Linked DNA regions of Homo sapiens. The protein of the gene in region 1 purifies or fractionates together with the protein of each later gene. This does not show direct contact. Each region holds a gene or a part of one and is shown in the gene's direction. Other genes may lie near its edges.

The links.
Region 2: the proteins of CPSF2 (region 1) and PAPOLA purify together in Homo sapiens (co-immunoprecipitation; 2 studies listed by BioGRID and IntAct, with this or other methods). This does not show direct contact.

The regions. Positions count from the first base shown.
Region 1 is NC_000014.9:92,124,969-92,131,968, forward strand, and holds part of CPSF2 (cleavage and polyadenylation specificity factor subunit 2), read left to right. Parts: intron 1-1,153; 5' UTR 1,154-1,212; intron 1,213-5,982; 5' UTR 5,983-6,016; coding exon 6,017-6,165; intron 6,166-7,000. UniProt on the Homo sapiens protein: Component of the cleavage and polyadenylation specificity factor (CPSF) complex that play a key role in pre-mRNA 3'-end formation, recognizing the AAUAAA signal sequence and interacting with poly(A) polymerase and other factors to bring about cleavage and poly(A) addition.
Region 2 is NC_000014.9:96,549,845-96,565,794, forward strand, and holds part of PAPOLA (poly(A) polymerase alpha), read left to right. Parts: intron 1-2,635; coding exon 2,636-2,778; intron 2,779-6,002; coding exon 6,003-6,103; intron 6,104-6,330; coding exon 6,331-6,569; intron 6,570-10,804; coding exon 10,805-10,867; intron 10,868-12,974; coding exon 12,975-13,049; intron 13,050-15,110; coding exon 15,111-15,206; 3' UTR 15,207-15,950. UniProt on the Homo sapiens protein: Polymerase that creates the 3'-poly(A) tail of mRNA's. Also required for the endoribonucleolytic cleavage reaction at some polyadenylation sites.

The DNA.
Region 1 (7,000 bases):
ATGAGCTGGGCCTGAAGACATTGAGCAGTGATGTCAGGGTGGCTTCCTGGCAACCTCCATTGCCAGTTAAGGCATTTGGTTTGTCTTTTCTCAAGCAGTAAGAAGCCTTCAGAGATTTCTGAGCAAGGGGTAATAGGTGCAGGGTATTTCTGAAGATGAATCTGGTAGCAATGTTTAGGTTGGATGAAGGGAGGAAATACTGGAGGCAGAGAAACTGAGAAACCCAAACATAAGGTAGTGAGGCCCTTCCTGTATTAGGGTACTGGCAGTGGGATAGAAAGGGAATGATGTGCAAAGCGTTCCTGAGGGAAGAATAATCAGGAACTGGTAATAATAGACTGTCCCAGAAGTGAAGAATCAGCATGTAGCATTTCAAACCTTGGTTACTTAGATAACAACTAATATATTCATGTCGCAGAGCTATAAAATACAATTTGAGACTGAAGAAATTTGGTCACAAGATAGAATCAGTAACGTTAGGAAGGGGTGGTCCACTAAATACTTTCGCTTTTTATCTCCCTGCTTTCTGTATCATCTCATCAATCATACACACCAGCTAATATCCCCAAAATACAGAATTACCTGTATCATGCCATCTTTCTACTTGATAATGAGTCTTAAAATGTTTCTGTTGCCTGCAGGACTAGGTTCACAGTTTCCAAGGCCTTTCACTATCTGGCCCCTTTCTGTTCATTAGGCCTTATCTTTTATTTTTTGCTTTTGTGAATGTTTTCCAGGCTAGTTTTTTCACTGGTACTTTAAAACTTACTCAAAAGTGTAGAGATCTGAGATGTCTGGTATTCCTTTACTCCTGTTACTCCTCTGTTTTGAGTACCTTCTCTTTGTTTCTACCCATGTCTTACCAATCCTTAGTGAGTAATCTTAAATCCCACCTCTTCTATGATTCTCAATAACATAAGGTAATGTCAACTTAAAAAAAAACTTCCTAAATATTTTTATGTCTTTTATTATCTGTTATGTAAGCTTAAGATTCCTAAAATTAATGACAGATCTCTTTTTTAAAAAAGGACCACGTATTATACTACTTGCTGCTGCTCCTGATGCCTTAGGGCAAGATACAAATTAAACACCATAATTATAAACAGAATGAAATCATAATACCACATTCATAAGGCTTTTATTTATTTTTTAGATTAATAAAGAACTCTTCAGAATTCCTGGTGTTTCATCATATATACGACTAAGATATCAGTAAGTAGTGAATGTTTGATAAAGATATAGCTTTATTATGAATAATTGTAGTGAAAATATCTTTTCATCTGTTGAAATCTTGGTCTGTCTGCAAAACAGTTTTAATATGAACTTACTCAGTTCTAGCTGCAAGATACCTTGCATGTTACTTCATAATCTAAATGAAGAAAGTGGGAATTAAGGAAGACTTAAGTAGAAAAGAGTTTCCCTTAGGCCATTAATATAATTGTGGTACAGTAAGCTTTTTGACAGGGATAATTTCCAAGGTCCTTTCCAAAATTGTATTTATAAACGTTTTTCATCAAATAGAGAATTAATGTCTTTGTACCCCAAATAAGAACACATGAAGGCCAGGCGTGCTGTCTCACACCTGTAATTCCAGCATTTGGGGAGGCCAAGGTGGGTGGATCACTTGAGCCCAGGAGTTAAAGACCAGCCTGGGCAACATAGTGAAACCCTGTCTCTACAAAAAATTAGCCGAGTGTGGTGGTGCGTGCCCGTAGTCCCAGCTACCCAGGAGGCTGAGGTGGGAGGATCACTTGAGCCCAGGAGGTTGAAGCTGCAAATGAGCCATGATTGCACCACTGCACTCCAGCCTGGGTACCAGAGCAAGATCCTGTTTCAGGAAACAAAAACAAGTCAATATATTTTAAATTTTAACTTACCAACAGTTATTTATTGAACAACCACTATGTGCAGGGATGTGCTAATGTACTAAGGATAAAAAAATGGATCAAGCCAACTCCTGTACTCAGAGAGCTCTCCCAAGCAAGGGCAAATACATGTGGATGGGTTCTGGTTTATGGTGTGGTAAGGACAGTGAGCTTATTTAATACTAGCCATGCCCCATTCCTTCCTTTAAGAAACATTTATCGGCTACCACTGTATATTAGGCACTGTGGAGGCGCTGGAATGTAACTGTGATGAAAACAGAGAAGGTCTTTACCTTCATGGAGTCTGCATTCCAGTGTGGGCACAGGAGGGGAGAAGGTGACAGACAAAGCAAGTAAATAAATAAGTAGCAATTAGAGAGCACTAAGTATTTTGAGGGAAATAGAATGATGTTGTAATGGATGTGAAGAAGGACTTTAGGGTGGTCAGAGAATGACTACCTCTGAGAATGACTCAGAATAAATTAGAGACAGGGAAAATATATATAAAAGTTAGAGGTTTTGGTCACAGTGAAGAGAGAAGAAAATTTGAGAAATATAATGAGTTGTTATGAAAGTATATCACTGGAAGTGTTTTATAAAGGTCATTGATAAACCTCTATACAACTTAAGCCAATGGACATTTCTCTGGCTTCTCAGACTTAGTGCAAATGGGAGGTGAGGAAGTGGAGATATATCTGTGGACAAATATTCTGAGAACTTTTGCTGTGAAAGGGAAACCCAAAAATGATGTAGTGGTTGTTGGGGGTTGAAGGGTTAAGAGAGGGTTCTTATAAGTTGGGAAATTCTAGAGTATTTTTATAAGCTTGTGGGAATGGTACATCAGTGATACGTTGATGCAGGGGAAAGAGCGAATGACTGAAGATGTCAAGTCTTTCAGAAGGTGAATAAGAATGGGATCAACGGCACACATAGAGGGATTGGCCTTGGATGGGAGCAGGACTATTCTATACAACAGGAGACCCAACAGTGTACATGCAGATAGGTTAATAGATGTAGTATCTGGAAAATGAGAAATTATTGTCTAATTTTATTTTCTGATTGAAGAATGAAATGAGATTATCAGCTGAGACTAGGGTGGAGGGAGGGATGGGTGATCTTTGAACAAAGAGGAGGAGGTGTGGAGTAGTAGTCTCAGAAACTGAAAGTCAACCTACTAAGAAAAGTCAGATTGAAGGGTAATACTTACGGCCTGTTTGAGGCCTTTGGCCATGAATTTAAAGAGCAAATAGCGTTAGCCAGGTGTGGTGGCAGGTGCCTGTAATCCCAGCTACTCGGGAGGCTGAGGCAGGAGAAATACTTGAACCCAGGAGGTGGAGGTTGCAGTGAGCTGAGATCTTGCCACTGTATACCAGCCTGGGTGACAAGAGTGAAACTCTGTCTCAAAAAAAAAAGAAAAAAAATGGGCCAGGTGGATCATGAGGTCAAGAGATCGAGACTATTGTGGCCAACATGGTGAAACTCCGTCTCTACCAAAAAGAATTAGCTGGGCGTGGTGGTGCATGCCTGTAGTCCCAGCTACTCAGGTGGCTGAGGCAGGAGAATCACTTGAACCCGGGAGATGGAGGTGGCAGTGAGCCAAGATCGTGACACTGCACTCCAGCCTGGCAACAGAGTGAGACTCCGTCTCAAAAAAAAGCAAATAGCACAGCTGTAATTCTCCTCCATATCCCATCCCCCCGCCGGCCCTGCATGATTGGAGTTAATCAGGACTGGGGTTTTGCCAGCCTAGTAGAGAGAAGTACCTAGAGGAGCAAGACATTTGAGTGTTTGCAAATAATGTTAACAGATCATGAATTGAAGGTGAGGACCTGAGTAAAAACAGGAGGGGGTCATGGATAGGGAAAAAGTAGTCAGCGAATTAGAGAGATACCACTGACCCCAGAGGATTTTTGCAATGGGAATACTAGAGTAAGTAAGGTGTTAGAGAATGAGATGCTTGAAGTGAAATTTTGAAAGTAGAACAGTTACTGGTAGTGATAAGGTCTAGGGTGTAATCGTAGTGGTGGGTGGCTGAAGTGAAATGATTATTGGAGTTGAGGAAGTCAAGGAACCAACAGGTCAGTATTGAAGTTACTGAGAGGAACAACGGGTCATGTAAAAGTCCTCAGTGAATGAGGCCAGGTGAATAGATGCCATAGTGAAGAGGAAATGTGGAAGACTAATAGTGAACTGCTGGGTGGCAAGAGCTTTAATGGGACTAGACTATTTGAAAGAGGAAAGAGAAGACATGGTTTAGAAGCTGCAGTGAGGAGCAAGGAACACATACCTCCTGCTTTTCAAGTACAGGGGGTACAAGAAGTTAAAACAACAACAACAAAAAACCTTGAGAAGGCCGTAAGAGGAAGAGTATGATGAGGGAACAGCCAGGTACCTGGGAAGACAAGCAGGTGAAGAGAATTTTCAGAGAAGCAGTTGCAGTTACAGGTGAGTATGATCACAGTTCCAGAGAGCATCCTGAAAGGATTTGAGAGGGAGAAGAGGTAGGGGATTAGGTCTTACTGGGAGACGTACACATCGTTGATAATTGATAACCTAGCAGTCTTGTGATTTTGGCTGTCACTCAGATAAACAAGGCTGGGAGATGTGGTGGGTTTAGCAGCCCCTGTCAGCCTCTTATGAAAGGTGGATATTCAGTTTACCTTAGTTTGTTGATGGCCTTGAGTAGTGGTAAGAAATTATTAGGTAACTCGGTGGCCTTCTCTCCTACTTGCATAGTTAGCCAGGAAAAGCTCATTTATTTTAGGGAGCTAAAATCTGAAATGTTGCTGTGGAGTTGAACTTTGCTAATGAATATTTTCATAACTTCTGCTTAATAGCACACAGTTCCAGGTTCTAAATCCCATTTTTAAAAAATGTATATATTTTATTTTATTTATTTTTTAGATACAAAGTCTCACTTTGTTGCCCAGTCTAGGGTACACTCTAGGGTCTCACTCTGTGCCCAGTCTAGTGGCGCACTCATAGCTCACAGTAACCTCGGACTCCTGGGCTCAAGCAATTCTCTCATCTTGGCCTTCTGAGTAGCTAGGACTACAGGTACATGCCACCAGCCAGTTTTCTTATATTTTTTTTTTGTAGAGACAGGGTCTCACTACATTGCCTAGGCTGGTCTCAAACTCCTGAACTCTAGCAGTCTTCCTGCCTCGGCTTCCCAAAGTGCTGGGATCACAGGCGTGAGCCACCGTGCCTGGCCTGTAGATGTGTTCATGTTATATTTTCCTGAAATATATGTAGTAGGCATCCCAATTTGCATTTCATCAGATATATGTTGAAGCGTGCATCAGGTTCTATTTAGGGAGTTGCAAACATATGCCACCTATGTTTTTCAGTTGCTCACATTCCAATGCAAGGGTTCTTAATGTTAAACTCCCTGAAAAGTTTGTGAATTTCTACGTGTATATGTACTCTTGTTTTTTGTTTGAGTGTGTTGAGAGTTGGTGGGGGAGGGGGAGGGTCCATAGGTTTTTATCAGATTCTCAAGGGGATCTATTTAAGGACCACTGGTCTAATTAATGGGAGAGAAAGACATGTAAACTAATCATTGTAATACAGTGAAATCAGTGCCATCACAAAGCAAGATAAAAGAGGAAGAGATTCACCTTGAAGGATGAGTTCATTAATTCCTAAACATTTATTTATTGAGGAACTTGGATGCAGTAGTATCTGTTATAGGTAATTTATACATTATTTGAAATACTTCAACATTGTTTTTACATGTATACTAATACTAATGTTTTATAGACTGAGATACATAGGTGAGGAAAGTTTAATTAACTTGCTTCAAATCACATAGAAGTAGATTCATATATGGGTCTATTTGATTGCAACATTCACTACCCCACTAGGGAGCCACTAAAGGGCTCATTGTGTCTAAGATTATCTTTGTGCTTTTAAACTTGGCAGTGACTTAATAAACTTGCTTTCACTTAAAAAAAAAAAGTAAACTTGGCAATGATGGAAATGGGCCTTTAAACTGCTTTTCGTGTTAATGGAATTTCTATGCACTTAAAGATTTGAAATAATTTTAATCAATTTGTTTATTATATATGCCAGACTGTGCTTTTATGTTTAATTATGTTTTCATTTCATTTGAAAGACTCTTCTAGCTTGCTGTTTCTGGACCAAAAAAAATGACGTCTATTATCAAATTAACTACCCTTTCTGGGGTCCAAGAAGAATCTGCCCTTTGCTATCTTCTCCAAGTTGATGAGTTTAGATTTTTATTGGACTGTGGCTGGGATGAGCACTTTTCTATGGATATTATTGATTCCCTGAGGAAGTAAGTTACATTTCATAATTCTATGTTTTTATTAAATCAACTTCTCTTTTCTGTACTGTAATACCATTTCGATGTGATAAATACTGCCTTTTTACACTAGTTTATAGCAAAAGGCTTAATTTTACTTATGCCAAAAACCTATAGTGACATTTTAACTTGTAAAGTTTTGATTGACTTATAAGCTTTGCTTGTTGAAATTCAGCAAAATCTTAAGCTAATGGATTTCAGTAGAAACTTTTGCATGCTAATTTTTGGAAAGAACAAGAATACATAAGAATTTGAGAAGAGGAAACATTTTCCATGTGAAAGTTCTGTGGTCAGATCACATTAGCTTACTTTCTACATCTTTTGATGCTTAACATTGTCAGCTGGTTCTCAGAATGACCATGAGATACTGATTCATCAAAAAAAAAATCAATTATGGGCTGGGCACAGTGGCTCACGCTGGCAATCCCAGTACTTTAGGAGGCTGAGGTGGGCAGATCACTTGAGTTCAGGAGTTCGAGACCAGCCTGGCCAACATGGTGAAACTCCAACTCTACTAAAAATACAAAAATTAGCCGGGTGTGATGGTGTGCACCTATAATCCCAGCTACTTGGGAGGCTGAGGCAGGAGAATTGCTTGAACCCAGGAGGCAGAGATTGCACTGAGCCGAGATCGTACCACTACACTCCAGCCTGGGCGCAAAGCAAGACTCTGTTTCAAAAAAAAAATAAGATAAAATAAAAAGTCAATGATGTTTGCAGTATTATACTAATTTTGCAAGAAAAGAGGACTTAAATATTTAAAAAACTTTAGAACTTGAGAAAAAAAATCCAAACCATTTTATTAATT
Region 2 (15,950 bases), 4.4 Mb from region 1:
ACATACAGAAAATATAAACATTTTGGACCCGGGAATGGTGGCTCATGCTTGTAATCCCAGTGACTTGTGAGGCTGCAGTAGGAGGATCCTTTGAGGCTGGGAGTTCAAGACCATCCTGGGCAACACAGCAAGACTCCGTCTCTAAAAAAAAATTTTTTTGAGAATGGTGGCCTGGGCCTTATAGTCCTAGCTACTTGAGAGGCTGAGGTGGGAAGATCATGTGTGCCCAATAGTTCAAGGCTGCAGTGAACTTATGATTATGCCATTGCACTTCAGTCTGAGTGACAGAACGAGACCCTGTCTCTTACAAAATAATAATTTTTTTAAAAAAGTATACAAACGTTTTATGTTTTCAGAAGTGAAAGTAGATTATGTTCTTTAGAACTTGGCTATTTCTTATGAATATTTAATTCATAATCAAATAGCTATTTAATAAACAGCTATTTATAACAGATAATTAGATTTCTCAGAATCATATATTCAGATTACCTTTTTAAACTCTTAGTATTTCCATGACAATATTGATATTTGGAACCATCTTGTGTACATTTTAAGTAAATTTGAATATAAGATGTTTTATTATTTCTTTAAATATAGTCATCTAGAATATAAAGAGAATCATTAATGATTGGAAATTTGTTTTTTGGTCCAAAAATTCTATCAGATGAAGTAACTATAATTTCACAGCAAACCTACTTTTAACATTTTATTTATACACAGACTGTTCAGTGCCTGTTACCACATACATATTTTTAAAAGGTTTTTGATTAAACTTGCTATTTTGTGACCTGCCTTTTTTTGTGTTAACATATCGTGACCATCTATCCAAATTACATTTTTAGTGGTTGTTTAATATCTCTTTATATAGCTACAGTATGATTAAATCTACCCTGTATTTGAGATCATTTAGATTATTTCTAAGTTTGCATTAGTAAAATAGCACTTTCTTGCTTAATAACAAGTGTCTAGGAGTCAAGATCTATGAATGTTTTGTTTGGACTCTTATAAATAGCTTCCTTTTATTAACTGCTTTTTGCAAAGCACTGTACGAGTCCTTTTTATATTTAATATTCCACCAACCCATGGGTATTGTCTTTAGTAGCAGAAACTGAGGGGTTGAGAACCTTGCCCTGGGTTATGTAGTATGAGCTGTGAATTGGACCTAGGTCTGACTGCAAAGTATGTGTGTGTGTTTCTTTCTGTAGTATGTTCTTTGTTTTATTTTATTAAAAATTATGATAGAATATTTATGACTATTTGGCTTTGAGGTCTCTTGCTACCAAACTTGATCTGGATATAGAAGCAAACAAAGCAAAGTAGCTTAATGCTGTTTTGTGTTTAGACCAACCAGATAAACTTTCACAGTTTATCCCCAACAGTGGCCTGTTAACTCACAGCTGTTTGGCCACTTAGTGAGGCAGGTAGGCAGGTAACTGTAGAACTGAATATAATTTACTTACTGAATAAATCCTCATATCTAGTGGAGAGTAAGATTGGTAGCATTGTTGAATAGAAGAGATACTCATTTATAATATTAGGTACTTCTATTTCACGACTGACTTCATAAGCAAATGGCATTACTCTCTCTTCCTCTCCTTTCTACCAAATCTCATCTTCCCCATTTGATCAATTTTCATTCATGTACATAAGTGATATGTCTAGTGCTAAATCAAAGATAAGAATATTTTGTTATTTGGGGAACTAGAAAGCAGAGAATGCAGGCACATGTATAAGGAATGTATTTTTGTCAACAGTATAAATTATTTTCATTAAAATGTTTCTGTAGGTAAGTGAACACAGGCTAAACATTCTGGAAAAAAAAATTAAGCTGAATGTAATATTACAGTAGTACCAAATAGCGAAAATTTAAACTCTGTTACTAGAAAGCAACTTTAATTCCATGAAACCATCCATAGTTTTTGGTTTTTCTGCATTATTTGTTTTGGGGTGCTTTGATTTTTAAGGAGGACCAACATTAGGATTTGTATATTATGTTTAGTTTTCAGAAAGTTATTTCTGCTTTTCTTTTCACAGGATAATTTACAGTATTAAGCATGCCATTTAAAAAATTCTGAATTGCAATTAGAGCACTGAAGTCTCTTGCTTTTGAGAGAGGCTCTTTTTATTGACAAATAGTAAGGAGTGGCAATAAGTTACACTTTTTGAAATTAAAAAAATTTTATATTTATTGTAGGATAATTAGAAATCTATATGTAAACAAAATCACTTCTAGTCCCACTTTCCAGAGTCATTGTAGTCCCATGTTTATTGTTGAGACATTTCTTTCTTGTGTGTGTATATTTTTAGAGTTCTCTGATTTGAGATTCTTGTGTTTTTATATTATAGTGTTTTTAATTTGTGTTGTATCTTACAGTCAGTATGTACATTTAATACGGCATTTCTTTCTCCCTTTTTCTCCCACATAAGAACTATATTTAATGTTGATGCCTTCTTAGAAGAAAGTACTTGACTCCCAAATCGTTGCCTTTTAGAGTCAGCATGGCACATCTAACTTTCGTAGATTTAGTGATCTGTGCTTTTCAGTAAAAATCATATATGTTAAGTAAAAGGTTTCCATGTTTCAACATTTGGATGAAATAAAGATATATTTGATAAAATGTTTTATTGTTTGCAGCATTCAACAGAAGGTGTCAAATTGACAGCTCTCAATGACAGCAGCCTCGACTTGTCTATGGACAGTGATAACAGCATGTCTGTGCCTTCACCTACTAGTGCTACGAAGACCAGTCCATTGAACAGTTCTGGCAGCTCTCAGGGGTAAGGAAAAAGAGGGAAATAGAAGTGGAGGGGCTGTTTGCTAAATCAATCAGATACATTCTCTTTTTGCTATTAAAGTCATCTATTTAGAATGTTATTTTCATTCCATCTACTAATTTTTTTTTAAATAGCAATTTAATTCCCAGGTTTGGGGATAGTACTTTTTGGTTTTGTCTTGTCATACTTAACATTTTATTTTTGAGACTGATAATGTCTTCAGTCAGATGTGAATGAATGTTAGCACATAACCCCTCCAAATTCATGTATTTAGATAGCTACTGCTACAGTGCACTGTATGGTGTGCTGATGAGAACAGACAAAAGGAACAAAACCACCTTTCTGTCCCAGAGCTGCTTATACCTTTGTAACAGGGAATGTGTCTATGATAGTTAGGGAAACCTGTTTTAGAAGAGCTAGATATCTGTCTAACATTTACAGCAGTTAAAATTTTAAAAATTTATTATTATTTTGAGAAATGGGGTCTGGCTGTGTTGTTTAGGCTGGCCTTGAGTTCCTGGATTTAAGCGATCCTCCTACTTCAACCTTCTGAGTAGCTGAGACTACAGGCGCATGCCACTGCCCTGGGTATGAAGCAGTGAAAAATTTTCAGCCAGGTGCAGTGACTCACACCTGTAATCCCAACACTTGGGGAGGCTGAGGTGGTAGGATCACTTGAGGCCAGGAGTTCAAGACCAGCCTGGGCAACGTAGTGAGACTCCCATCTCTAGAAAAAAGTAAAAGAATTAGGTGTGGTGGTATGCACCTGTAGTCGTGGCCACTCAGGAGGCTGAGGTGGGAGGATTGCTTGAACCTGCAAGGTTGAGACTACAGTGAGCTGTGATCCCACTGCTGTACCCCAGCCTGGGCAACCAGAGTGAGACCCTGTCTTAAAAAAAAAAAAAAAAAAAAATTTTGAGTCTCGCTCTGTCACCCAGGCTGGAGTACAATGGCGCGATCTCGGCTCACTGCGACTTCCGCCTCCCAGGTTCAAGCGACTCTCCTGCCTCAGCCTCCGGAGTAGCTTGGATTACCGTCACCTGCCATCATGCCCAGCTGATTACTGTATTTTTGTGGAGACGGGGTTTCACCATGTTGGCCAGGCTGGTCTTGAATTCCTGACCTCAGGTGATCTGCCCACCCTGGCCTCCCCAAAGTGCCAGGATTCCAGGCATGAGCCACCACGCCCGGCCTGTATTACAATTTAACCAATGGCAGAAGTGCGGGTTGGGGAGGATTCCCTGGATGAGTGTGAAATAGAAAATGCTGAGGTGTTGTGGATGTGTTTTTTTCTTTCTTTTGGACTTCATGTGTATATGTTTTTAGGCAAATCATGCATAATCCAAAGACTTCAGGCCTGAATATGTCCTGTAAGTGTTATCATTTTAAAAGTTTTTTTTTAAGTGAAGAAACTAACATTTTAATAAGAATTTTGGGATCTGTGAAAGTCTGTGTCCTTTGAGTGTGTGCACAAATATAAAATGTGTACAACTGTACTAAATAATTTCACAAATTTAGTTTTGAAGTTTAGTTTCTTGAAGTAATACTAAGTAACTTCTGTAAATAAAACTTCTGGGTTTTTAGAATACGATTGTATATTTGCTCAACAAGCAGTGAGTGTTTATTATGTACTAGGCACCTTGCTAGCCATTTCAGGCTTTCTTCAGCATCTGTGGTTGTTCTCTGGCCAACTATCCTTTTCTTTTTAGTCATTTAATATTTGTGCCCTTGAGGGCTCTCTCATTATTCTTTTGTCTGTTTATCCCCTCTTGATATTGTCCCTGAGTGGTAACACCTGCTCTGTTGACTACATTTACATTCATATACCAATGATATCCATAGCTTTAATAAGTTGACTGCTCCGTGGTTCCCTGTGGATGTCATGTAAGTACCAAAAATAACAAGTCTTCGAAGTGTTGCCTACCTCCTCATGGTGTCATCATTCACCAGTTTCAGAGTGTGGGTGATAGCTCTGAGAGAGAGAGAGAGAAAGAGAGACAGACACACACACACACAGACACAGATAGAGACAGAGAGAGAAACCAGAGGACTTTTCTGCTTTTGTTTTTCTTTTAGGAGGTAATAAAACCGTGAATTTATTTAAATGCTAATGTGTAGGATTTACTTGAGACAGGAAAATTGGATGGGAGAGTAAAGGAGTGTGATGATTTGAGTTTCTTGAGATGACAGGAGTTAGTGAGATTTAGAACATAGATTGGGCTTTTTTATATAATAAGGAATAATTTCTTTGTATAGGAAAGAATAGGGGTTAATTATAGAAATAGGTGTGTCTCTTTAATATTTATACTTAGAATTTGGGGTAATACTTGGCTAGTGGCTTTTGGTTGGTTGTTAAGTAGGAAGGTCATTTGAGATTGGCATGAGAAAGAGAAAATGAGAGAGAAACTTCGGGGGAGTAAAGAGGGTTTAAAATAAGTTATTTTAAAAGTAAGATATTGAAATAATCCCCTTGTCACTTAAAGGTCTTTAACTGGGCCACTGGATGGGCTTTTAGGGTTTTATAAAACTCTTATACTTTGTATACAGAAGTTTATTTCTGTTTTCTGTTTCTCAGAACATTTGCTCATTCATAACTTTTTTTTTTTTTAATAATATAGGTTTTTTTTTTTTTTTCTTGTAGAGACGAGGGCTCACTGTGTTGTCCGGGCTAGTTTCAGACTTGAGCTCAAGCAATCCTTCCACCTCACCTCCCAGAGTGCTAGGGTTACAGGCGTGAGCCACCATGCCTGGCCTCTTATTAATAACTTTTTAAAGGATTTTTGTTCGAAAAAATCCTTCAGTTAAGTCTCTTAGCCAAAATTAGCTAAGAATAGATCTTTTAGAACCACTCTGGCGATATAGTAGCCAGCCGCCATATGTGACAATTTAAATTTAATTAAAATTAAATAGTTTCTCACTAGTCATATTTTAAGTGCAGAGTAGCTATGTTTTAATAGTGGCTACCATGTCCAGTAGCACAGATATAGAACATTCTGTCATCTCAGGAAGTAACATTAGACAGTGCTGCTTTAGAAGGTTTGTGTACTATTTACTGTTGTTATACTTTATCCAATAAAGTCAGTTGCTAAATTGTATGTATAGGAAGTAAAACCAAAGAATCATTTACTTTACAAAATAATTTCTATATATGTTATAGATTATTGTAATTTTTTTTTTATTTTTCTATTTTTAAATTTTGAGACAATTTTTAATTTTTTTTTTTTTAGCAGAAACAGTCCTGCTCCAGCTGTAACAGCAGCATCTGTGACCAACATACAGGCTACTGAAGTTTCTGTGCCACAAGTAAATTCCAGTGAAAGCTCAGGGGGTAAGGAGATTGGGTTTGTCAGGTTTGAGAATTCTTACATTATATTTGGTTTAGCCTTCATTTTGAAAAGTGGGTTTGTTAAGTAGTTGAAATTCAGTTTTTTAAATGCCAGTTTATTTTTTGCATGTAAAGTTATTCATGAAATCAAATTCAGAGAAACAAAAACTTACAACTTGATACTGATTTGGTTATTTTAATTTGTATATACTCATATATTTGCTGCTTAGGTACATCGAGTGAAAGCATTCCTCAAACTGCCACACAACCAGCCATTTCTCCACCACCAAAGCCTACGGTCTCCAGAGTTGTTTCTTCAACACGTCTGGTAAACCCACCACCTAGATCTTCAGGAAATGCAGCAACTTCAGGAAATGCAGCAACAAAAATACCTACTCCTATAGTAGGAGTCAAGAGGACATCCTCACCTCATAAAGAAGAGAGTCCCAAGAAAACCAAAACAGAAGAGGTATATATATGAAAAACATATTAGTTAGCCATGGCAACACCAACTGCCTATTTTTAAATCCAGTGGAAGAAAAGTTTATGAACCAAAATAGAGAAGGATCAAGGAACAAAGCTTTTAGAAAATTTTAGGTGTGTCTGTAGTGCTTTAGTGCTGTAGTTTCTCTTCACCTTTCCCATTCTTCTCAGTAACTACCTCTGCTATAAAGCTATGCCCTCTCATTTAAACTTCTTTAGTGTGTGTAGTTAGCAGGTATTGTCTACAACAGAATTTAACATGAAATTACATGTATTCTTAACTTATTATTCTCTAATGACTACCTTTTATTTGTACTGATTTTTTGATGGTCCTTTGGACAGTTTTTTGCTTCTGTGATCCAAAAGGAGTTTTGGAGTTTCTCTACTGTACTTGGTGTTATAGGACCATCAAATACCAGAGGTTCTCAGGGACTTCTTACTGAATGATAAGTGCATGCAGCCAGATTAGTTTTTGAACCTTAAATGGTTAGCTCTCTAACCCTTAAAGAAACTTTCTAGCATCATTTGCATTTTTGTTTTTTAACTCCTGGGCACAGGCGATCCTTCTGCCTCCCAGGTAGCTAGACCCACAGGTGCATGCCACCATTTCCAGCTTAATTTTTTGTTTTTTGTTTTGAGACAGGGGCTGGCTCTTTTGCCCAGGTTGGAGTGCAGTGGAGCAATCTCAGCTCACTGCAACCTCTGCCTCCCGGGCTCAAGCAATCCTCCCACCTCAGCCTCCCAAGTAGCTGGGACTACAGGTGCGCACCACCATGCCTGCCTAATTTAAAAAAAGATTTTTTTGTAAAGACAGAGTCTTGCTATGTTATCCAGGCTTGTCTCCAGCTCCTGGGCTCAAGCGATCCTCCTGTCTTGGTCTCCCAAAGTGTTGAGGTCACAGGAACCACTATGCTTTGCAAGCTGGTATTAACCTTTTATACTACCTGGTTTATAATTGTTACAGTCTTAGTTTTGGGAAAACCATTAAAACTGTACATTGATTTCGTATGAGTCTTAAAATAGAGGTAGTCTTGTTACACAATTTTATTTCTCCCTCGAGTCACTTTCATGTTGTTTTCCAATCAGTGAGGCATTTGCAATTGCCCCAGAGATGACAGTCTAAAAGCACCAATTTCATTGTGTTTTTTTTTTTTGCTAAGAATGTATTTAGTAATTTACTTACTACAACACAATTTCTTTAGAGTGGAAAAAAAACCCCTCTAGATTTCTCATGGATTCTATTATGTTTTGATTAAGAATGGTGAAAAATTATTTTATTATTTTATTATTTAGCTTATTCTCTGAAGACTTTTTCTTTCTTTTTTTTTTTTTTGGAAATAGCTGCTATTAACTAAAAGTAATCTGATGAATTTTGTCACTCTTAAGATGGTAAATGAGAATGAAAAACGGGTATTGTATAGTACTTTAAATCCCCCAGATTACTTACGATGCCTAATACAATGTAAATGCTGTTTAAATTGTTGTTATGATGTATTTTTTAATTTGTGTCATTTTTATTGTTGTATTATTTTTTATTTTTCTAAGTATTTTTGATCCATGGTTGGTTGAATTCGCAGATATGGATTCCACAGATATGGAGGGCCCACTGTAAATAATCATAACTTAGAAGATGTGTTCTGAAAACTCATCTGTGTCTGTGTAATTATCTCTTAGGGCAGTGATTTTCATCATTGGTTGTACAACAGAATTAGTTTTTGGGGTTTTTTTTGTTGTTGTTGTTTTTCAATAAAGATTTTAGGGCTTTCTCCAAACTGAATCAGAGATCTTCTAGAAGTTAGGCCTGGAGATCCTATTAAGAGCCCTGCTGCCACATGATTGGGTTGTGCAGCAGCTAAAGAATATACTCAATTTTTGTGTCAATTACACATTCAGACTACTGATACTGGTTTGAAGTTGTCACGGCATTTCAGAACTCAAATTTCTTTTGACATTAGTAAAGTGTATTTAAGCATAATTCTATGCATTTAACATTTGGTTTTCTTTATGTTAAAAATGGCACCCTAAGAGCTCTAAATAAGTTTGTACTAGTGCAGTATTTTGCAATTTTGTTTGCACTTACCTTGGTAGAATAACACTTGTGTTTCTTGTCTGGTTTAGAAAAGCAATAAGAATATAGAATTTTTAAACTTAAGTATGGAAAATTAAAAATACATATAAAAGAGTCATTTTATGTACCTGTGTACCCATCACACAGCTTCTGTTATAATTAACTCTCAGCCAATCTTTGTAATCTTAATTCTTTCAGCCTTTTTCATTTTCTCTTGCCATTGAATTACTTAAAAGCAAAATCCAAACATGTTTCATTAGAATCTTAAAAATCATATCTAAGAATGAAAGCATTAACAGTAAAATTAGCCTACTCACAAAAATTAACAATTTATTAATATCATCAAACATCTAGTCAGTGCTCAAATGGCCCCTGATTGTTTCATTGATTTTTTAAAAAATAGGCTGTTTGTTTAAATCTGGAAGCAGAAAAAGATCCCTGTGTTGCAATTGTTTGATATCTCTAAGTGTCCTTTAAAATATAGATTCCCTCCTCCATCCCTCCCCCACTTTTCCCTGTAATTTTTTTTTTTTTTTTGGTGTATGTTTTCTCAGTCTGGATTTTGCTTACAGTATTTCTACGGAGTTGATTAATAGAACTATAGCATTTTAAGAAGATAAGGGGTATTAGGTTATTCCATGGGCTAATCTCATTTCCTACCAGAAGAACTTGCTGTTTAGTGGCTTTTCCAGTTACGGATCTAGTTACAGTTAGAGGCAGGATTAGAACCCAGGCCTAAATCTCATGGTGCTTTAGTCAAAAGAAATTTGCTGTGGTAGAAGTAATCCTGATTTTGAAGCCCTTCTTAATTGGGTCTTTTATTCTCTGCTAATGAGTACTTGGTATTAGAAATTTTAGCAAAGCAGAAAGAAATACTGGCCTCACTCAGTAATGCACTAACGTGTATATAGATAGGAAAGTTTTAGATACTCTGAGGTAGTTTAGTTCTGCTTAATGGTCATCATATCCTAAGGTTTTTCAAATAAATATAAATGGTAATGTAAAATAAAAATCGAAAATGTTTGCTCTATTTCCTGGATTATAGCTAAATTAACCTCTCTCTCTCTCTCTCTCTCTCTCTCTCTCTATATATATATATATACACACACACATATATATATGTATATATATATATGTGTATATATGTATATATTTAAAACTTTCTGTATGGAAAATTTCAAACATGTCATAAGTATAATGAACTGTCATGTTTGCATCACCTAGCTTCAACAGTTAACAACTCACAGCCAGCCTTGTTTTATCTACATACCCACATCACTTCCTTCCCCATTGTTTTGAAGCAAACCCCAGGCATAACAACCAAAAACATTTCTTTGTATATCTAAAAATAAGGACTTCTATAAAATATAAGTACCGTATATTTGTCACACAAATATTAATAATCCATAGTTTTACATATCAGTCAGTATTCAGATTTGGCCAATTGTGACACATTACTATTTTTAAAGTTTGCATATTTGCAGGGTACAAATAAAGTCCTTATTGGAATTGATCGATACTGTATTAAATCTCTTCTAAGCTATAAGCCTGTGGTTTTTCTATGCCTGTTTTAAAAGTCACATTTAAAATTAAATTTTAATTCTGCTGAGAAAATAGTGTCAAAATAGTTATTAAGACCCAAGCAAGGCATTTCTCAAGTCTTGTATTCTGTAGGATGTTAGTAGGTCGTACCAAGAGCAAGGATTCTCTGGTTAAGCTTGGGAAAATTAAAGTGGAGTTCTTTCTTGATAGAATTTATTAGAACCTTTTATGTGCCACTCTGTGTGAATCTCCCAGAATGGGGGTGATACTATGCCAAGTTCCTAAAGTTGTATGATCAGGAACTCTTTTTTTTTTTTCTTTTCCTTACAAAATATATTTCTATGAACTCTTAGTGGTTTTGGAAATGTACTTTAGGTGGTGATCTGCAGTAACAGTTTTCCTAATGCTCTTTTTAATTTTATTAGCTACTGAAGCCAAATTTAATCTGATAAAAACATTTTAAAAGAGGGACCAGTTATCTATTTTAAGGCTGTAGTTGATCTTACAGGTTTAATTATTTTATAGTTTTAAAGTTTATAAAGTAAAGCATTGATTGGCAAATAATCTAAATTTTTCATTTTAGAGAATAAAGCTTTTTTTTTTAAAAACAGGATGAAACAAGTGAAGATGCTAACTGTCTTGCTTTGAGTGGACATGATAAAACAGAAGCAAAGGTATACTAATTTAGCCTTTAGAATACATACACAATTAAGAGTACAGAAGATGTAATAGAAATGTCTCTAAAATATTGTATTTTTGTGCTATAGGTTTTAGATTTTTTTAGTATTGTTTATTACTGTTAATTATGTAATGCTGAACACTGAAGGGAATATTGTGATGAGTGAAACACATTCTGTGCCTTTAAAGGAGCTTATAATTAAGTAGACAAGATAAGTCATGAATGTAATTAATTACATTATCAAAGAAAAAGTAATTGAGGGCTGGGGGCCACGGGGCAAGAAAAGTAAGATGTTATTTCTGACTGCAGAAATAGCAGTACATGTCTTCATTGAAGAAAGAAGTAGCATTTGAAGTGGTCCTCAAAGGATACATAGGATTTTTGATAGTCCGGGCTGAGATCATGATCTGTCTCTTTGGGTTGAGAATTTGTTATGATTATAGAAGCAGTTTTTGGCGTAAGGTTTTGGCTAGAACCTGGGGTACATGGGGCTTGAATGAGGTGTAGATGGGGTGGAAGAAATTTTTTTTTCCCCAAAATGTAAAAGACTCATTTTTTTTCCCTAGAAATTGAAATCTATTGAAGGCTTTTAACTTTCTTTCCTTGTGGAAAAATTGGAAATTCTCCCCCTTCTCCCAAATTATCCAGATTTCTATGATGGATATTTTAACAAAACTCTCTTAGGTTTTGTGTGTGCCCTCATAATGCCCTTGCTTTATAATTTTGATTCACTTTGTAAACCAAGAAAAAAGTATGTGTATCATTATGTAATCTACAAAATTATTAATGGCTTCATAGAATGCTGTCTTAAGGCTATGATTATTTTTATCCAACCAATTTCCTATCCATAGCAATTATTTCCATTTAAAAAAGAAAGTTGTGCTTTCCTGCTGTAATATTGGTTACAGCTAAATACCATATCTGCCATTCATTCATGTTTATTTACTTAGCATAAATTAATGGAAGAAGAATTATTGAGGAAAATAGTATGCTTTATCTTAAAGTTTGGTATACATCACCAAGTTGTCCTCCAGGAAGGCTGCATGTCTTCCATTCCTACTTCTTACATCTTATTTACCTTTTTTAATTTCATAGGAGAAAACAATATTTCGTTTTTTTTTTTTTTGGTATAGTTTCATTGAAATTGAAGTTTTTATATTTTTCTTTTCTTCTTTGTCCTTTTTTTGGTTTTTTTTGAGATGGAGTCTTGCTCTGTCGCCCAGGCTGGAGTGCAGTGGGACAATCTCGGCTCACTGCAACCTCTGCCTCCTAGGTTCAAGCAATTCTTCTGCCTCAGCCTCCCGAGTAGTGGGGATTACAGGCACCCGCCACCATGCCTGGCTAATTTTGTATTTTTAGTAGAGATGGGGTTTCACCATGTTGGCCAGGCTGGTCTTGAACTCCTGATGTCATGATCTCCCCACCTCGGCCTCCCAAAGTGCTAGGATTACAGGTGTGAGCCACCACGTCTGGCCTATATTTTTATTTTCATTTATTTGTGTAGATATTATTTTCTTTTGTGTACTGCTTTTAAAAAGTTTAGAGTGATGGCATGACATACTTTACCCTGTGTTTTCTGATGAGTAGAATCAGTGCACTGATTACTAGAGAGGGGTGAAGAGACCATAAGGAGGGAGAAATCTTTTTTAGACATATTTTCTACTTTTAATTAAAGGTGTGAGGTTATTTTATTTAGTAGTATTGAATAAGTTTTTTTTTTTTTTTTTCCTCCCACAAAGCTAAGAACTGTCCTTGGGTTTATGCTCTGTTATTGTCTGGGCAACATTTCATGATGTGCCTATGTGTGTTTTTAATTATTGTTTGCTTAAAATGTCCCAAGTTGGAGCTGGTTGGAAAGTCATGAGCTAGTTTGACCCATGCCTTATAAGATTTAAGTAGGCAAATAGAAATTTATTAATATCTGAAATGGTGAAATAACCTACAACATCTACTGACTAGATGTTTTTGTAATGTAGTCACATCTTTCTCTTGATCCCTCCTGTCTTCCAGTTTGTCTTCTTTATTAGCCACCAAACCCAGTTATGTTCTTTTATTCTTTTTTAAGTCTCTTTTCCCCCTTCCCCATCCTCTTTGTCTCACAGGAACAACTTGATACAGAGACAAGTACAACTCAATCAGAAACTATTCAGACAGCGGCTTCTCTGTTGGCCTCTCAGGTACTAAGTGCAAAAAGCAAGGAGAATTTTGTAAATGTCCTTAAGATTAGTGTGGTATATTGAATTAAAGTGAGAGTTCATAGAAGACTATTAAAATTAATCTTTCTGAAAGTAATTACTTGCTAGCCTATAAACGTATTTATTGTAGTTTTAAGGCAGGGCCCTGGATTTGACGGAACCGTTCTCTGGGACTGTTTCGATGTTAACCCATCCCCTTATATTAATATATTATTTGATACTGCAAATCATTTAAATTCTCACTAGTCATTTACACAGGGTTCATATGTAGGTTTTATTTGTAGGTCAAAAGTGAAATTAAAACTAGGAATGAACTAAAAAACATTCTTCGTGGATTTCTTTTGCAAAGGCTAATATATTTTTATTTTAAAAATGTATTTCTGCCTTATTTTTCCACTACTGATTTCAGTTAGTTATTTAATATAGCCCATAGCTCTTCAGAATTATGTTTTCATTTGTCCTAGCAATTCTACTTGTGACAGACCCTCACATACAGAATACAGTAGGCATCTGGAATCTTTTTTCATTGATTTGTGAACCTTCATTTTGTTGAATAATTTTTTTCTTGAATCCTTTCACATGAATGAACCCTAACATCTAGCTCAAATTCTGACACAAAGTAGATATATTCTTTAATAGATGATAAAACTGGTTAATGTCTACAAAGTAACTGAGATAACAACTGCTGCTGTACTGATATGATACTATGTACTATGATGATATTTTGCTGCTCCTGTGCAGCTCCGAGTTATTTTAACGTGATCATTTAAACATGTGCTTTTGCTAGATGTTAACTTTTATTGACTCTAAAGATATATAAATATTATGTTTAGTTTCTGAAATACCTTTTCCATAATCTAATAAAACTTTAGGGGGAGTAACTAACATCAGGAAGTATGCTTAATATTGATACGTGGACAAACTTGTTTATCAGTCTTAAACTGTCCTGTGATTGTGATTGCATGTTTTTTGGTTTGCCACATACTCTCGGGACTTATTTTCATAGTTTTGTCTTACTGAATTTATCCCTATAGTAATTAGTACCCATGGGTATTTGCCTTTTAGATATTTTTATGAGTGAGTAGAATTTTCTTTCTAATGAAAGGATTCATAGAGCCATAGAGAGAAAAATCACCCAGTTATGTAAGAAGAATGATTATGTTGATTTAAAAAAAAATTCATTCCTATCTTTGGTAATGTTAGGGGCGTACTTATTTCTGGGGAGGTGATAATATTGTGGCTATACCTAATAAAGAGTTCTTATTGTTTTGAGATAAATCTGGAAATATTTATAGATGAAATGATAAGATCTCTAGGATTTGCTTCAGAATAACACAAGGTGAATTGAAAGTGGGAGGACAGTGGCTTTGATTTGATAATTGATGAAGCTGGGTAATGAATACATGGGGATGCATTATACAGTGCTCTCTACTTTGTGTATGTTTGGAATTTTCCATAATAAAACTTTTAAAGATCCATCTCTGTATTTTTTTAGTGTTAAAGAACGCTTGTGATTTAATCTAATTAATATGAAAATAATCTACCTAAAATTTAGGATGATTAAATTATTGCTTAGCTGTATATATTTGTTTAATTTACAGTGTCAGAAAATAATAAATTTACTGCTGCTTCTGTATATAAAATGAGCTTTGAGTATTCTCCCACTTGGGGGTGCTCCAATACTAGTTAATATTACAGCTATTAGTGTTGTAATAAGTGAATACAGTTTAGCAGTAACTTAAGCATTATATGATAGGTGATTCTTAGAGGAACAATTTTAAAAACTATTTGAAATTACTTAGGAGTTTTTAAAATATTATTAAAATATACCTATTTGAAAATTCCTTTGTTGAACACATTATTTGTTGAACAAATAATGTGATAGGCATATTTACATTCCATTTTGACAACATTATAGAGTTTTTAAATTTGTAATACTTTTCTTCTTAGAAGGTTTCTTAGGAAGTAAAGCAATGGAAAATACATCTCATTGTTAAATTATGGTGCTTTGAACAATGTTGTGTTCTTTGCTTTCATTCTCAGAAAACATCCAGTACAGACCTTTCTGATATCCCTGCTCTCCCTGCAAATCCTATTCCTGTTATCAAGAATTCAATAAAACTGAGATTGAATCGGTAAAAACAACCTCAGGGGTCCATAAACAATATCTGCCAACTCAACCTGTTGTCTTCAAATGCTAAAAAAGGAGAATGGAGGGTACAAGACTAGACATGACTGAAATGGATTTGGGTTTTTTGGTGACCTCCCTTACTGGGCTAATCAGCACTTGATCGGAAGTCCAGGTTAGTATGTGAAGCCAGGAGTACTATTATTATTGTGTTAGCAACAGTTGCATTAACTATTTCAAAAATTACTGCCTTTAAAAAAAACAACCTCAAGCTATATTTGTATTCATAATTGACATCTGGATTGGGTTTATGTTTGATGCATTGTTTGGAAAATTTGCAATACAAACTGGCATAAGAATTACTTATTCTGATGATGCACTTTTATGTATTTTTCATTAGAAAGTAGAACTAATTTTAGATTTTCAGCTTGATGGATTTTCAGTTTTTCCTGAAGAATTTTCTTTACCATTAGTCTTCAAATTGGATACTGTTGTGCAGTGGTGTACTGTTATACTTCAGAGAAAGGGTAAGAGTACATCTAGTTCAGTTCCTATGAGGTAGCTGTAACCCTTAAAAATGAAACGTCAACTCTAGGGTACATTTGACATTGAAAGAATAGTTAGGAAATAACTTGGTTTTGATAGGGTCATGATTAAGAAATGATATATTGGTTTTATTTATGGAATTGTTTTATAGTGCATACAAATCAGCGATCAGCCAGCAAATATTTTTCTTTGAGCTTGTGAAAGCTCTG